Linked DNA regions of Homo sapiens. The protein of the gene in region 1 purifies or fractionates together with the protein of each later gene. This does not show direct contact. Each region holds a gene or a part of one and is shown on either strand. Other genes may lie near its edges.

Region 1 (3,657 bases):
TTCACTCTTTTAAAAAATTCTTTATTTTTATTTATTTATTTTTAGAAACAGAGTCTCACTTTGTCACCCAGACTAGAGTGCAGTGGTGCAATTATAGCTCACTGCAGCCTCGAATTCCTAGGCTCATGTTGAGTAGCTGAGAGTATAGGCGCACACCACCATGCCGGCAAATTTTTTAATTTTTTATGGAGATGGAGTCTCGCAATATTGCCCAGGCTGGTCTTGAACTCCTGGCCTCAAGTGATCCTCCTGCCTCAGGCTCCCAAATCTCTGGGATTACAGGTGTGAGCCACCATGCCCAACCCCCTCCCCACTTTTTTTTTTTTTTTAATTCTGTGTTGTATTATTATTATTTTTTTACTCCCTGGCAGGGACCATTCCTTACTACAAACTTGATTTTCTCTGAGATTTAATTATACATCATTTGCACGCCACCCTTCTTAACTGTTTGTGTATGATCTTTGCTTTTTTTTTTTTTTTTTTTTTTTGAGATGGAGTCTCACTCTGTTGTCCAGGCTGGAGTGCAGTGGTGCGATCTCGGCTCACTGCAACGTCTGCCTCCTGGGTTCAAGTGATTCTCCTGCCACGGTCTCCTGAGTAGCTGGGACCACAGGCGCCTGCCACCACACCCGGCTAATTTTTTATATTTTTAGTAGAGATGGGGTTTCACCATATTGGCCAGGCTGGTCTCGAACTCCTGACCTTGTGATCCACCCACCTCAGCCTCCCAAAGTGCTGGGATTACAGGTGTGAGCCACCGCACCTGCCCTGATCTTTACATTTTTACCCTACTGAAGGAAAACATCACTCATCGGAAGTGATTCCATGGAATATTTTTTTTTCTTTATTTTTAGAATGAGCTCTTTATTGAATCAGGATTTGAGGTGATTATACGCTAAGCACAACACTGGATCCTATCTTTGTCTAGCGCGTGTCTTCTCAAAAATAAAAGTGCAAAATAAAAAACAAAACAAAAGAAATAAAAGTGCAAATTCTGCTCTCAGCCGGGTGCAGTGGCTCACGCCTGTAATCCCAACATTTTGGGAGGCTGAGGCGGGCGGATCATCTGAGGTCAGGAGTTCGAGTCCAGCCTGGCTACCATGGTGAAACCCCATCTCTACTAAAAATACAAAAATTAGCTGGACATGGTCACGCGCTCCTGTAATCTCAGCTACTCAGGAGGCTGAGGCAGGAGAATCACTTGAACCCAGGAGGCAGAGGCTGCAGTGAGCCGAGATGGTGGCATTGCACTCCAGCCTGGGTGACAGAGCAAGACTCTGTGTCAAAAAAAAAAAAAAAAAAAAAAAAAAAAATTCTGCTCTCATCTACCACTTCCCGAAGAGAAAGCATGAGAATGCATGCATTGAAGAGGCTGCTGGTAGCAGAGAGGAGAGGCCAGTTCATGGGGATTGTGAACATTGTTGCAGTTGCTTCCATTCAAAGGTAACTCCTCAGCCTTTCTCCTTTCAGGTGGTATAAGTTGAAATCCAAACCAGGAAAGAAGGACAAGGAGCGAGGAGAAATTGAGGTTGACATCCAGTTTATGAGAAACAACATGACTGCCAGCATGTTTGACCTTTCTATGAAAGACAAGTCTCGGAATCCATTTGGAAAGCTGAAGGACAAGATCAAGGGGAAGAATAAGGACAGTGGGTCAGACACCGCCTCCGCCATCATCCCTAGCACGACACCTTCGGTCGACAGTGATGATGAGTCTGTGGTTAAAGACAAGAAAAAGAAATCAAAGATCAAGACCTTACTTTCCAAGTCAAATTTGCAGAAGACGCCTCTTTCCCAGTCCATGTCTGTCCTGCCGACTTCAAAGCCAGAAAAAGTGCTGCTTCGTCCCGGAGACTTTCAGTCCCAGTGGGATGAAGATGACAATGAGGATGAGTCCTCCTCGGCCTCGGATGGTGAGTTTCTGCCTCTTCCTGCTTGACCTCTCTTCTTCCTCTTACCATGCTTCGTTCTGAGAGAGAAGAAACAGACAAATCTCAAGAGAAAGAGTTTAATTCAATTCCTCAATTACAAAATCATGGTGGTGGGGATGATGATAGCGGTGGTTAAGATGCCCTCTCTAAGGCTAGGCGTGGTGGCTCACGCCTGTAATCCCAGCACTTTGGGAGGCTGAGGCAGGCAGATTGCTTGAGCCCAGGAGTTTGAGACCAGCCTGGGCAACATGGTGAAACCCTGTCTCTACAAAAAATATAAAAATTAGCCAGATGTGATGACATACTCCTGTAGTCCCAGCTACTCAGGAGGCTAGGCTGGGAGGATTGCTTGAGCTCAGGAAGTAGAGGCTGCAGTAAGCTGTGATCGTGCCACTGCACTCCAGCCTGGGTGACAGAGTGAGACTCTGTCTCAAAAAAAAAAAAATGCCCTCTCTGTTTCTTTTTTTAAAATATTTTTTGTTTGTTTGTTTTAGAGACAGGGTCTTGCTCTATTGCCCACGCTGGAGTGCAGTGGCGCGATCATAGCTTACGGCAGCCTCCAACTCCTGGGCTCAAGGAATCCTCTCACCTTGGCCTTCTGAGGAGCTGGGACTACAGGTGTGCATCATCACACCTGATTAATTAAAAAAAATTTTTTTTTTAGAGATGAGGTCTCACTATGTTGCCCAGGCTGGTCTGAAACTCCTGGCTTCAAGTGATCCTCCTGCCTCAGCCTCTCAAAGGGCTCTTATGACCGGTGTGAACCATTGCCCATGGCTGAGATGCCCTCTCTATTTCTAAGCCCTCTGGTTTCTTTCCTTCTTTCTTCCTTCCTTCCTTCCTTCCTTCCTTCCTTCCTTCCTTCCTTCCTTCCTTTCTTTCTTTTCTTTTCTTTTGAGATGGAGTCTTGCTCTGTCACCCAGGCTGGAGTGCAATGGTGCGATCTTGGCTCTTTGCAACTTCCGCCTCCTGGGTTTAAGCAATTCTCCTTCCTCAGTCTCCCGAATAGCTGGGATTCCAGGTCCGTGCCACCACACCCGGTGAATTTTTGTATTTTTAGTAGAGTTGGGGTTTCACCATGTTGACCAGGCTGGTTTTGAACTCCTGACCTCAAGTGATCCACCTGCCTTGGCCTCCCAAAGTGCTGGGATTATACCCTCTGGTTTCTAAGAATGTATAAATTCCTTTTCCAGAGTTCCTGGCTCTATAAATGATGTCCACTAGTACAAGCTTTTAGAGCTAACAGAATGAGTGTCTTCCAAGTTTTTTTTTTCTTTTTTTTAAGGGTAAAACCATGGAACCTTATGGTAATTCTGATATTTCATTAATTCATCAGGTAGTTATTGAGTTCCTGTGATGTGCTCAACCCTCGTGGGATATAGCCTTATCAGAAGCCAAGGAATCTGCTTCCTTTAGCTCTGAGTTAATTATGTATTTTGAACTTCAATTTCAATGTCTAAATCCCTCCCATTGGCCGGATTCTGCTACTCTACCAAGAGTGCTGCCCTTTTCATTGGTTTAACCCAGAGTTTCTCAACCTCAGCACTGTGGACAGTTTAGACTAGACAGGCCTTTGTCGTGGGGGGCTGTGCTATACGTTGTAAGATGTTCAGTATCATCCTTGTCCTCTACCTGCTGGATACGAATAGCAGCACACCCCCTCCAAGTTGTGGCAACCAGAAATGTATCCAGACGTTGACAGATGCCCCTACACTGCAAACCACCC
Region 2 (3,657 bases), on another chromosome or scaffold:
AGGTAGTTAACCCTATGGTTGAAACAGCTCTATTTGACTAAAGTTATTCTTAGGGGCAAAGAATTCCCTGTACTTCTTGTAGTAACTGGTTATTAGTTTCACATTTGCCACCTTTTCCTCTGATAGTATCATTTCTGTAAAGAATAATGGGAAAGTACAAGTCTTTTTAAGCTGGGGGCTCTTCTCTAAACACGTTTTTCTGTTCAAGTTTAAGTGCTGTTATTTTAATTGGACATTTAAAAATATCTAATATTAATAGAACAATTAATACATGCATAAGATACTAACTATCCTCTGCTTTGGGATATTATTTTTCTATCCCACTACAATCTAACCCATTTTATCAGCCTGTTTAGTCTCAACACACTGTACATGAAGCAATGTGAAATCCTTCCCTTTCTGAGCTGATAATTTCTTTGTGGCTACATTCCTTAAGCATTCATTTCCTCGAGCTGATTTAGAGTCTGTGAAATTGGGAAGGGGTTTATGACTGGACAGGGCAAACACAGGGACAACAATGTGGAACCATGGGCAGACACAGCCCAGTGAAGAGGGGAAGAGGCCCGGTGCTGACCTGGGCCACGGACATTCACATCTAACACATCCACCTCCTGCTCTGCCTGAGGAGGGGTGAGAGCCAGCGATGGTGTCCTACGGATGTCTGCAGCTTCAAGGTGCTGCTGTGTCCATGGCCGTCGATCAATGGGGTCATCTTCTTCTGAGAGTAAGGCCTCATCTTCAGCCTGAAAGGTGAAAACAATGCTCCCTATCAATCTGGCCACCACCAGAAACTGCTAATCAGAAGGTGTCCAGAGCCTCCACCACCGCTGCTTATCTCCCATTGTTTTCTCTCTTCCTACTCCTCCACCCCTCCAGAGGATTACCTCAGCCTTGGCTTCCCACTGCTCTCGTGATGTGGCTCCTGCTTACCTTTCCTGCATCATCTAGACAACTCCCTCCCCCAATCCCAAACTCTAGGCTTTAGCCTTTAGATCTCCAGAGCACCCAATTCTCACTTTTCCTACCCTCCACTAGAAAGTAAACTTTAATTCTTCTTGTTGGCCCTAAAAAGCATACTCTGCTTACCTCTGCTTAACTGATCATGTGTTAAATGCTTACACAGCACTACATGGCCATCTCCACCACAAGGCTGTAAGCTTCTCAAGAAGGGAAAATAAGCCTTGTTCAAGGTTGTTTCCTTGTACTCAACATAGCACCCAACATGTAGTAAGCACTCAGGAAAGACTATTCAATAATAATAATCATGATAATTTAAAAGCAGCTACCCTTTACTGAATACCTAGTACATGACAGGAAAGTAGATAAGGCACATATGCCAACACAACAACTCACAGAGGAAAGGGTTATTATTATCCGCATTTTACAAGGAAGGATAATTACAAAGAGGTTAAGTAACTTGCCAGCTACTAAGCGGCAGAGTTTTGGATTTGAATCCAGTTCTGATATTAACTAAAGCAATCTTCTTAACCATCATGCTCCACCAGCTCCCAGCCATGCACAGCTGTGGATGGATGGTCTGCTTTTTCATGTCAGTCTCAGCCCAATCTACCACTTGCTTTTATATGGCTTTAGTTTCCTGGGCTCAAGGTATGGAGCCTCCAATGTCAACGTTTTGCCATGATCACTGGCTTTCATTTTGCCAATGTCAATGATAACTGGCTTTCTTCCACTGCTTAATTTCATCTTCTCTTATAGAAGAAGTGCCCATAAAGGATAAGGAAGAGATGTGGCCATGAAGGAATTGCCATCTACACACACCATTCCTGACTTGACTACTGCCAGCATAACACTAAAGGAAACAGATGTGCTTAGTATTTTTAAAGAGTTATTCTTGAAGAGCATATATAGGTAACCCAAGGTCATTTACGTCCTAAGGATTCCTGCTGTTTAGGAGAACCTAGGATAGTTATTGTCTGGGTAAGACATCAAGACTATCACTCTTTACTCCCATTCAGGACACTCTGGAGCTAAAGGACAGAAATTTGAAATGTAACCAGATAATGGCTGACAATGGTGGTTCTACCATGGCCACCTCACCTTTACTTTCTTTGGCTGGGGCCCTTCATCATCGACCCAGTGTTCACTTGTTCCAGTACCAATTAGGTTAGCTTCTGAGACTTGCACTGAGAGATTTCTAATATGATTATAAAAAGAAAAAATAAGAATGGCAGTCATAAACTAATACAGTGGTTTTCAACACTTTCCACCATGACACACTCCCGTGGCTATATTACAATTTTGCAGGGTCTTGGCCCAGAGAAGATGGGCAGTATTTTTGGTGACATTCCCTTGGCATTCATCCTTTCCCTTCCCATTGATCGTGAGCTTACAACAAAAGGGCACCTCAACACAGAAGCTGGGCGGCATTGTGATAATATACACAGAATAGATGCACCCACGCTCTGACTGTGGTTTCAGTCACTCACAAGGCATTTAGAATCATGGTCAATGTGAGTAAATGCCCAGAGCTTAGAATTTAAAATCATGATTCAACAAGATATGCTTTTCTAGTCATCCCTACTTATACTGTGAATAGTGGCTTATTGGCAATGCCTCTTACTTCAGCCCCACAGCATCCTGTCCCACTGGCTCACGACGCTTGTGATTGCTTGCATCTCGGCGAAGAGTGAAACCTTCAGGCAGCCAGAGAGAGCCATGCTTACGCTTTCGTTTTGCCATGATTACCCCCAGCAGAATAATAAACAGAATGATGACAACAGCAACAGCAAGGAGATAGAGGAGCTGAGTGCGTTCTGGAGTCAGGGATTCACCTGAAAGTCCACAGAGACAGGGAAAGTGCTGAATAAAACATTAACCTCTCAATGTCAGCATTAGATTCATTTAGAGGGCAACTTTGACCTCAACAGTCCTGAAAAAATAGAGGGCTACATAATGAAAATTGTTCCCCCAATTGACACTCTTCCCCCGCCACCTTTCCCCTTTACACCAGTGCCACTCACTGACGACAGACACAAGAGGGTATGACAGGGTCCCCTGTATGGCGTGAGAGGCCAGGAGAGCTGCTGCTGCATCCGTGTTCTTGAAGCAGTGGTCTGAGTCTTGAACACACTGGCGGTTGTCAATTTCCAGAAAGACTTTAGAGCTGTGGGATGCCAAGGGAGAAGCGGAGGAGGAGAGATGGGGGTAAAACAGAAGAGTGCAGGTCAGGCAGAACATGTCATAAAGGGTGACAGGAGCCTCCCTTCCTCCCCTTCAGCATCAGGTCCCCACCTCTGGGATGCTGCCTTAAGACATATCTCAGGAATTAGAATACTGTCCCTTGAGATCTTAAACACTAATTCCCACATAGAGGATGTCCCACCTTCCTTAGTCTGGCTGACCAAAGCCTTCTGGCTGAGGCAATGCATGACAAAGTGAGAAGCTGTGCTTTCCTCCCGAAGGTTTCAGTGGTCTTCTTCCACTCTTTCATACCTACTCAGTGGTACTTGGTGCTACTCTAAACATACATCCCTGTGTGTTTTTAGTCCTTATTTTCCTTTGTCTCTGCATTGGTATCTCAGCTAGCTGGAGGGTTGAAAGTTTGACAATATACCAACAAAGAGTGAGGTGTGAATGACAGAGCAACTGAAGATCATTACCTGTGTCAAAGAGACATATATTCTAAAGAAGGGCCTT
Region 3 (2,420 bases), on another chromosome or scaffold:
AACTAATTTTTACTTTTTGTTTTTAGTTTTATTATTTTGACTGATTATGAAAATATGCAATAAGTTTACTCTAGGTAATGAGTGAAAATTCACAAACATTAGAACAGCAAATTTTCAGGCAGTGATGAATGTATTAATAGATCTAGTTTTAAATATAATACTTGTCTCAGATTTAAAGATAAAAATTTTGATTGAGTTATAACCAAATCACTCATGTATGAATAAAGCTAAGCCTCAATAGCTTTTATATAGGAAAAGAATCGCTCCTTAAAAATCAATTTCCCCATAAAAAGAAGAGCAGTACTTGAACCATACTTTTAAATGAGTTCTATTTATGTAAAACATATCCCCAATACAAAACTGACATCTTGGTTCACTCTATAAACAGCAAATTTGGCCAAAGCATATTATTATAGTATCTGCAGATACTGTCATAATACTGAAAACATAGATTTTCACATTTTAAGAAGTGTATGAAAAGACTCAATAATACTACCAGACAAAAACAAATGCTGAGAATTTTGTAACATTTAGTTAATTAAAAGTGGCACCATGTTTAAAAAAAAAAAAAAAACTACCAAGACCTCAAACGGGAAAATACCATTCTACACCAGACTTTGAGGTTTATTACAGAATCTTGAGGAGAAAAAAATTGATAAAAGCTATTTTTCCTTCTCCATTTCTTAAAGCATTTAATTTTTATGAAAAAAATGTTCATAATTTCAAAATGTATGTTCTTACAGTAAAACTGAAATGCAGAAGATACAAATAACAAGGGGTTTTAGTTTACAAATACGAGCTTGGCCAAGTATTCTCTGATTCAAAATACTAAAATAAGCAAAAAAAAAAAACCCAAACTATTATATCGGCTTTTTGTTTAACTTTCAATGGAGTCTTAACAGAGATAAGTATTAGAAAAAAATGCAATTCATGGAAAGATTGGGGAATATGTAAGTCTCCATATGGACATGAATTTTCATTTTAAATTCAGAAAGACATAGATACTCTCAGTGTTTTATAGTATTTCAGACTTTAAAGGCTGAAAAATAAGCAGAAGATTAGCAATATTTTTATAACATTGCTTGTCAATTTAAATTTCAGAAAAAATTTGTACAAATCATATAAAAATAATCCATGGAAGAAATCAGTATTTTGGGGGAGTGGACTTTAAAATAGAACATAATTTTGTAATAAATCAATTCTTAAAGGGTGGATGTGGAGTAATGCATAATGTCACGCTCGTAAAGTTCTCTTCTAAAAACTCACTCTTCCTTTAGTAAGTCTTATTTTGGTTCAAGACCCAAAGGCAACCATCTGCTCTATTATTTATGTAACCTGAAACCAAGCCTAATTCTTCATTCCTGGAATCTGCCCGCTGCTTTGGGTTATCAGACACACCAGGCAATCACATACTTCCCACAATTATTTTCAGATATAACTTTATAATATTTGCTTTGCTAGTGATTTAAAGGCATGCAGAATTTCAACAAAACAAGCTATATTAGCTTATCTTCTGCTTATACCTTAAACAAACTCAAATGTTAATTAATTCAAATAAATTCATGCTGTTATGAAGTTAATGAAGTCTCCTAAAATTTGTCATTCTTTAAAAAAGGACTTGAGATCATCACTTTTGGGGAAAGAGAAAAACTTTGATGCTAGAATAATATATAGCAGCTCACTTTGAAACCAAGGTCCATGTAGTCAAGAGTGATTTGAAGCAGCTTCTCTATAACAAACCATGACAGTAGGAAGGATGACTTGTCTTGCATCAATAGAGCACACACATTTTCAAATCAAGAAATTGGTAGCCTAACTTTAGAGGCAATCAATTGTTTCTAAATGTTCTAAAAACACATGTATATATGAGGTATATGCCTATATTTTATATACAAGATACATGAATATATATATATTCATGTACATATGTGTATATAAAATATAAACTGTTTTTTTAGTAGTGTTTATAACGAGCAGTATTCCTGAAGCTAAATATTTCTACAAACTGATTTCTGAGAAACCAGCCACAGGATCAATTCTGCTTTATGAAAAATCTATTCCTGAGGAACAACTCACGTACTTCTGAAGATATTTCTGGGCCTATGGCAGATTAGTGGGTCAGTACCAGCACCTGAGTGAGTCCTAAGGAACCACTTATTCATTGAGAATCTGGCCCATTTTCAATTTAAACATTTAAATGATTTAGCTTGCTTCAAAGGTCACTCTTGATAGTCCCTGCTAATATTTACAGGTAAAACTACTCTTCACAATAAAGGAGAATATGTAATGAAACCTGATAGTGTAGTCTCTTTCAGTAACAAGTTTTTCCTTCCTTCCTTCTTTCTTTCTCTCTCTTTGTCCAATTATCAATACAATACAATTGGCTTTATTAACTGTTAGAGAATTTGCCAGCTTTCCTG

The links.
Region 2: the proteins of RAB11FIP1 (region 1) and NOTCH2 purify together in Homo sapiens (affinity purification with western blotting, with the first as the bait; one study listed by BioGRID). This does not show direct contact.
Region 3: the proteins of RAB11FIP1 (region 1) and RAB11FIP2 purify together in Homo sapiens (affinity purification with western blotting, with the first as the bait; one study listed by BioGRID). This does not show direct contact.

Annotation. Positions count from the first base shown.
Region 1 is NC_000008.11:37,875,365-37,879,021, reverse strand, and holds part of RAB11FIP1 (rab11 family-interacting protein 1), read left to right. Parts: intron 1-1,470; coding exon 1,471-1,913; intron 1,914-3,657. UniProt on the Homo sapiens protein: A Rab11 effector protein involved in the endosomal recycling process. Also involved in controlling membrane trafficking along the phagocytic pathway and in phagocytosis. Interaction with RAB14 may function in the process of neurite formation.
Region 2 is NC_000001.11:119,919,655-119,923,311, forward strand, and holds part of NOTCH2 (neurogenic locus notch homolog protein 2 isoform 1 preproprotein), read right to left. Parts: intron 3,125-3,657; coding exon 2,982-3,124; intron 2,793-2,981; coding exon 2,582-2,792; intron 2,156-2,581; coding exon 2,059-2,155; intron 744-2,058; coding exon 575-743; intron 1-574. UniProt on the Homo sapiens protein: Functions as a receptor for membrane-bound ligands Jagged-1 (JAG1), Jagged-2 (JAG2) and Delta-1 (DLL1) to regulate cell-fate determination.
Region 3 is NC_000010.11:118,006,609-118,009,028, forward strand, and holds part of RAB11FIP2 (rab11 family-interacting protein 2), read right to left. Parts: coding exon 2,390-2,420; 3' UTR 1-2,389. UniProt on the Homo sapiens protein: A Rab11 effector binding preferentially phosphatidylinositol 3,4,5-trisphosphate (PtdInsP3) and phosphatidic acid (PA) and acting in the regulation of the transport of vesicles from the endosomal recycling compartment (ERC) to the plasma membrane.